Homo sapiens: one gene and its partner. The protein of the gene in region 2 purifies or fractionates together with the protein of the main gene of each other region. This does not show direct contact. Each region holds a gene or a part of one and is shown on either strand. Other genes may lie near its edges.

Region 1 (3,817 bases), on a different chromosome or scaffold from region 2:
CTGGCAACCACCCCGTCTGAGAAGTGAGGAGCCCCTCCGCCCGGCAGCTGCCCCGTCTGAGAAGTGAGGAGCCTCTCCGCCCAGCAGCCACCCCATCTGGGAAGTGAGGAGCATCTCCGCCCGGCAGCCACCCCGTCCGGGAGGGAGGTGAGGGGGGGTCAGCCCCCCGCCCGGCCAGCCGCCCCATCCGGGAGGGAGGTGGGGGGTCAGCCCCCCGCCCGGCCAGCCGTGCCATCCGGGAGGGAGGTGGGGGGGTCAGCCCCCCGCCCGGCCAGCCGCCCGGTCCGGGAGGTGAGGGGCGCCTCTGCCCGGCCGCCCCTACTGGGAAGTGAGGAGCCCCTCTGCCCGGCCAGCCGCCCCGTCCGGGAGGGAGGTGGGGGGGTCAGCCCTCCGCCCGGCCAGCCGCCCCGTCTGGGAGGTGAGGGGCGCCTCTGCCCGGCCGCCCCTACTGGGAAGTGAGGAGCCCCTCTGCCCGGCCAGCCGCCCCGTCCGGGAGGGAGGTGGGGGGGTCGGCCCCCCGCCCGGCCAGCCGCCCCGTCCGGGAGGGAGGTGGGGGTGTCGGCCCCCCGCCCGGCCAGCCGCCCCGTCCGGGAGGGAGGTGGGGGGGGTCAGCTCCCCTGCCCGGCCAGCCGCCCCGTCCGGGAGGTGAGGGGCGCCTCTGCCCGGCCACCCCTACTGGGAAGTGAGGAGCCCCTCTGCCCGGCCAGCCGCCCCGTCCGCGAGGGAGGTGGGGGGGTCAGCCCCCCGCCCGGCCAGCCGCCCCGTCCGGGAGGGAGGTGGGGGGGGTCAGCCCCCCTGCCCGGCCAGCCGCCCCGTCTGGGAGGTGAGGGGCGCCTCTGCCCGGCCGCCCCTACTGGGAAGTGAGGAGCCCCTCTGGCTGGCCAGCCGCCCCGTCCGGGAGGGAGGTGGGGGGTCAGCCCCCCGACCGGCCAGCCGCCCCGTCCGGGAGGGAGGTGGGGGGGGTCAGCCCCCCGCCCGGCCAGCCGCCCCGCCCGGGAGGTGAGGGGCGCCTCTGCCCGGCCGCCCCTACTGGGAAGTGAGGAGCCCCTCTGCCCGGCCACCACCCCGTCTGGGAGGTGTGCCCAACAGCTCATTGAGAACGGGCCAGGATGACAATGGCGGCTTTGTGGAATAGAAAGGCGGGAAAGGTGGGGAAAAGATTGAGAAATCGGATGGTTGCCGTGTCTGTGTAGAAAGAAGTAGACATGGGAGACTTTTCATTTTGTTCTGCACTAAGAAAAATTCCTCTGCCTTGGGATCCTGTTGATCTGTGACCTTACCCCCAACCCTGTGCTCTCTGAAACATGTGCTGTGTCCACTCAGGGTTAAATGGATTAAGGGCGGTGCAAGATGTGCTTTGTTAAACAGATGCTTGAAGGCAGCATGCTCGTTAAGAGTCATCACCAATCCCTAATCTCAAGTAATCAGGGACACAAACACTGCGGAAGGCCGCAGGGTCCTCTGCCTAGGAAAACCAGAGACCTTTGTTCACTTGTTTATCTGCTGACCTTCCCTCCACTATTGTCCCATGACCCTGCCAAATCCCCCTCTGTGAGAAACACCCAAGAATTATCAATAAAAAAATAAATTAAAAAAAAAAAAAAAAAAAAAAGAATCTTATAACTTCCAGCTGCACGACTCCTAAACCATAATTTCTAATCTGTGGCTAATTCATTAAACCTACAAAGGCAGTCTAGTCCCCAGGCAAGAAGGGGGTTTGTTTTAGGAAAGGGCTGTTACCATCTTTGCTTTATTTTTCTATTTTTGTTTTATGAGACAGGGTCTAGTTGCCACGCAGGCTGGAGCACGATCTCGATCTTTGCTCACCGCAACCTCTGCCTCCGAGGTTTGAGTGATTTGTGCCTTAGCCTAACAGCTGGGATAACAGGTGTGCACCACCATGCCTGGTTTTTTTTTTTTGTATTTTTAGTATAGATGGGGTTTTGCCATGTTGGCCAGCCTGGTCTCAAACTCCTGGCCCCAAGTGATTTGCCCGCCTCAGCCTCCCAAAGTGCTAGGATTATAGACGTGAACCATCATGCCTGGCTCCATCTTTTTTTGGCTAGGTCAGATCTCTTTCACTGTCTCAGTTATAATTTTGCAATGGTGGTTTCAATCACAGTGTAATTAGTTGTCAAAAGCCTAACACAGACAAGGTCTGAATTTAGAGAGAGTGATGTATTTTAGCTAAAGGAGGTTTGGCACGTTTCACAGAGAAACACTTGAGACTGGCTTTGAAGAAACTGCATAAATGGACTGGATAGAGAGATTAAACACTGTATTTATTTTAGGCCAGTATGTTTACTAGTTGCCTTCATATCTAATCATGAACTTCTCGGGCAGGTGCGGTGGCTCATGCCTGTAATCCCAGCACTTTGGGGCACCAAGGTGGGCAATCACTTGAGGTCAGGAGTTCGAAACCAGCCTGGTCAACATGGTGAAACCCCCATCTCTACTAAAAATACAAAAATTAGCTGGGCATAGTGGTGTGCATGCCTGAAATCCCAGCTACTTGGGAAGCTGAGGCAGGAGGATCGCTTGAACCCGGGAGGCAGAGGTTGCAGTGCGCTGAAATTGTGCAACTGCACTCCAGCCTGGGCCACAGAGAGACTCTGTCTCAAATTTTAAAAAATAAAAGAAAAAGAAAAAGAAAAAGAAAAAAAAAACATGACCTTCTCAAAGGGGAAGTTTATCACAAATCCTTTCATTTCCCTTCCCAACCCCACATTCTGACCACATTAAATATTTTTAAGATGCTCTCTATACCTCTAAGCCTTTGCACAAGCTGATTCCTCTACTTGTGAGAGTTTCCCTCCCTTTCCATCCCCTTCAGATACTCTTTCCTAGCTAACTCCTCCCATTTTTTTTTTCAGGTTTGGTTTTTCTTTTTTTACACTGAGTCAGAACATTATTTTAATAGTTACAAAACTTTTTTTTTAACAGAATCAGTATAAAATAGCAGTTGATTTCTCCATAATTATCAGAATTATTTATATTTGAGGTCTTGCCTAAGTGGGGCTGAAATCAACAAAAGGTCTTGGACTACTGGCTCAGAAATCATCCTAGGAAGCCCGCCCTGTTGACATTTGTCATGCTTAGCTCTTATGAGATGACCCGGTCCTTTAAAAAAAAAAAAAGTATCTCCGTTTATTCTGTTTATTTGGAGGTTTGAAGTGAATTCGGCAGCATTCATTAAACTCCTTCCAGCTCCTGTCATTTATCATTCTGACTACATCCATTTCAACTTTGCCTGCTCTGTTCTGAGTTGCTTTAACAATATTAAATCGTCCAAATTCTTTTCTCTCTCTTCTCAGAGGTTTTTTACTACTGCTGAGGTCTGGGCTATATAGTTTTTTATGACTCTGTCCCTACTGGCATGAGCTGCCATCAAAGACTCAAAGTTGTTTACAGGTTTGGCTGGCATCAATCTTCCCTGCAAAGGAAGCTGTTGGAACTGTAGTGTTTAATTAATGTACTAGTCTGTATCAACTGTCCACATCACCTTGAGTAATTCCTGGAACTCGGCGAACTCCTCACAGTTCACACTGCCACTGGGTGCCACCATACTGGACTCAGGTTCACATCTTAATTGACCTCCTCTCAGAAATTTTTGTCTCTTTAAGTTCGTAAGTGCTTTGGTTATGCAGTCCCATAGGACCTTGTACTTTCCTTATAACCCTTATAAGCACCAGTTTGTCTGTTTCTTTTGCTAGAATCCTTCAAGTCAGGGACCAATACCTGCTCTGCTTGTATCCAACTCCACTGCCTGGTGCAATACCCTATATATAATATGTACACTACAAATGTTTCTTGAATA
Region 2 (3,817 bases):
GGCAGTAAGCAACAGAGCTGCATGTCAGCTGTCCCTTCCCCACAGGGCCTCGCGCTCCAGGTGGCCATGGCCCACATCTTGCCCAATCACCGACTGAGGTACTTGCTGATAGGTAGGGGCGCCTGAGTGTGTGACCCTCTGGCCACTTTCTCCCTTACCACAGACTGGTGTTTGACGTCTATGGCTGTGTGGGTACCACAAAGGGAGAGGGGTCTAACTCTGGGTCTGACCATCTCAGGTGTTCCCATGTGATTGTATCTGTGCCCTGCAAACCCCGGAGGCCCTGGTTTTACCACGTCCACCTACCAGAAGACCCACTACTGCCATCTATCACGGCTCGGTGAGGTGCACAGGACTATGCCGCCAGGAAAGGCAGAGGAGAGGGAAATGTCCTCCCGCCTCCAAGTATACTTGTCTCACATTCCACATGAGCTCATCTCACCCTCACAAAATCCCCGCAAAGAAAGTATGAGCACCCCAATTTGCAGATGAGGAAAACTGAGGCTTGCAGAGGCAAAGTGTCTTGTCCTGGGCCCCACAGCTGGTAAACACTGAGGAAGGGATTTCAATCCAGAGAGTTCTGCCGAATGAGTGCAATGTGAGGGTCAGTTCCAAGGGCACTTCACAGCGTTCCGCAGGGGACCTGTGGTCAGTCCCCAGAGGGGTTTGCAAGGGCGAAGACCATTCAGAAAGGGTGGCCAGGGTTGGACCGCTACATACCACTTTCCCCTGAAGACTTGGAGACTCTTTCTGCACACCATGAACATACTCTTGGACCCAGCAAGACATCAAAACACGCCAAATATCACCAGGGTTTCCCAAAGTTCTTAAAGGATACTTTAGGTAATTCTATATGTTGGTGTGAAAGTGGGAGGGGAGAGAAGATCTAGTGAAGAATAATAAAAATCAGCAAGAAAAATCAGCAAAGCAGGATAGCACCATGTGAGGTGCCAGGCTCTGGGACCCCAGCTCTGCACCTCACCAGCTGTGTCCTGGGCCACTCCCATTCCAGCTCTGTGCCTTGGCTTACCATTTTAAAACTGAATAAAGAAAACATTAACGGAGTGAAAACGCAACTACAGAATGGAAGAAAACATTTGCAAACCATACACCTGATAAGGGGCTAATATCCAGAATATATAAGCAACTCCTTAAACTCAGTGGCAAAAATAAACTTCTATTTTATTTTATTTAATTTTTGAGACGGAGTTTCACTCTGTCACCCAGGCTGGAGTGCAGTGGCACAATCTCGGCTCACTGCAACCTCCGCCTCCCGGAGGTTCAAGCAATTCTCCTGCCTCAGCCTCCCAACTAGCTGGGACTACAGGCGCATACCACCATGCCCAGCTAATTTTTGTATTTTTAGTAGAGATGGGGTTTCTCCATGTTGGCCAGGTTGGTCTCGAACTCCTGACCTCAGGTGATCCACCCACCTTGGCCTCCCAAAGTGCTGGGATTACAGGTGTGAGTCACCATGCCTGGCCAAAAACCCTCCAATTTTAAAAAGCACAAAAAATGTGAATGGATATTTCTCCAAACAAGACATACAAATGGCCAAGATCTTGAAAAGATGCTCAAAATCTCTATTCATCAGGGAAATGCAAATAAAAATCACAATGAAATGGCACCTCATACCTGTTAGGATGGCTATTACCAGAAAAACAAAAGACATGTTGGCAAGATGTGGGGAGAGGGAATGCTTGTACACCGTTGGTGGGGAGGAAAGATAGTGCAGCCACTATGGAAAACAGGAGGAAGATTTCTCAACAAATTAAAAATAGAGCTACCATAGGATCCAGCGGTCCCACTTTGGGGTATTTATCCAAAAGAATTGAAATCAGGATCTCAGAGACATCTGCACTCCCATGCTCACTGCAGCATTATTCATAACTGCCAAGATGTGGAAACAACCTAAATGTCTATTAATGGGTAAATATTGGTATATATACACCTTGAAATATTACTCAGCCTTAAAAAAGGAAATTCTGTCATTTGTGACACCATTGATGAAACTGGTGGACATTACGTTATGTGAAATAAGGCAGACACAGAATGAAGACTGCATGATTCCACTTACATGAAGTATCTAAAATAGGCAAATATGGTGAAACCCCATCTCCACTAAAAATACAAAATTAGCTGGGCTTGATGGTGCATGCCTGTAATCCCAGCTACTTGGGAGGCTGAGGCAGAATTGCTTGAACCTGGGAAGTGGAGGTTGCAGTGAGCCGAGATTGCGCCATTGCACTCCAGCCTGAGCAACAAGAAGGAATCTCCGTCTCAAAAAAGAGGGTGCTCTGATGTTAGGTATTCTTACCACACAAAAAATAACCAAATTAATAGTATGACTATAAAGTGACAGCATGAGATGTGAGGGGTGATAGAGATGGAGCTGTCCTGTATCTGGATGGTGGTGATTACATGATAAACAAGCCTTAACTTTCATAGAAGAGTGCACAAACACACATTAATTTTATCATATGCTAACTTTAAAAATAAAACAAAGAAAATAAATCATGAATCATTGTATCTGTCTGTAAGGCCAGTGTGATTTTATAAGTCCAATGACATGCCTAGCCCAGTGCTCAAGACATTACAAGCTGAAGGGCCGTGAGGTATTGCTAATAAGATGAGCATTACTTCTCCTCCTCCAAAGATATTCAAGACCCAGACCAGAATCTGAGAAAGGAAAGCTAATGCATGGAGGGGCTATCACAACGCCAGTCCCCAGTACATCAGGGACATCCGGGTCCTCTGACTTTACTAACTGTAATTACAGCCAGGCCTCTCATCTCGAATAGGGTTTCCACCTTTTGGAGAAACAGAATGGTTTGTCCATTTCAAGCGGATCTGCCTTCCTGTGTAGCTGTGCTGCCTGGCAGGTGCCAGGAGGAAGGCTAATTGTCAAGGGCATGAGGATTACGCTGTCAGAGGCACCAGCTGTTTCCCAGCATTTCTGAGGGTCGGTTTCCCTGGACATAAAACAGGAAGGATCATGCCCACTCAGAGGGAGAAGAGGTATCTGTAAAGGACCCCACATGTCCCCTGGCTCTTGGCTGTATGGAGAACCCTGAGTTCACCCTGCCTCTCCCGTGGGTCAAGATTTTTTTTAAACAAAGACAGCCAGCGTTGGAGGTTTTTTTCCTGTCCTGTACTTTTCCCACATATACAATCAATGTAATTAAGTTAATAGACCTAAAAGTTAAAGCTGACAACAGACAATTAGGCTAATTGCCACTTCCTTAAAGGATCAATTAGGGCTGTGTTTCCCAAACTGTGTTTTGAGAAATGGCACTAGCTGCTCCATAAACAACAGGGCATCTGAGACTATACATGTGGCAAATGTTGGGCTGAACCAAATAACTCTGGTTCGCTCAGTGCCGGACTCTTCAGAGTCCTCAGTGAGGCAGCCAGTGCGGCATGGAGGGACACAGACTGGAGGACACTGAGTCAAATCAATCATACAGACCAGGGCTTTATACATTTTAATGAATACATGAATCACCTGGGGATCTTGTTAAAATACAAATTCAGATTCCAGGTGGGCACTGAGATTCTCCACTTCCAACAAGCTCCAAGGTGCTGCTGAAGCTGGCATCTGGGACTGCACTTTGAAGAGCAAGGTTATTAGTAGAAAGTTACGGCCCCTTACTGTCCACTTCACTGGTGGGGTAACAGAGTTGCCGAAGGTCATGCAGGAGTGATGGGTGGGACGGGAACTCCACGCCCCAGCCTCCCGAGGCAAGGCTCTCCACCGCCACCCGACCTGGCTCCCCTGCTGCTCTCAGCCCTGCTTGCTATTGCTTCTCCCAATTCA

What was found.
Region 1: the proteins of ERGIC1 (region 2) and HIGD1A fractionate together in Homo sapiens (co-fractionation; one large-scale study listed by BioGRID). This does not show direct contact.

Annotation. Positions count from the first base shown.
Region 1 is NC_000003.12:42,797,708-42,801,524, forward strand, and holds part of HIGD1A (HIG1 domain family member 1A, mitochondrial), read right to left. Parts: intron 1-3,817. UniProt on the Homo sapiens protein: Proposed subunit of cytochrome c oxidase (COX, complex IV), which is the terminal component of the mitochondrial respiratory chain that catalyzes the reduction of oxygen to water. May play a role in the assembly of respiratory supercomplexes.
Region 2 is NC_000005.10:172,840,529-172,844,345, reverse strand, and holds part of ERGIC1 (endoplasmic reticulum-Golgi intermediate compartment protein 1), read right to left. Parts: exon of another isoform or gene 3,476-3,817; intron 1-3,475. UniProt on the Homo sapiens protein: Possible role in transport between endoplasmic reticulum and Golgi.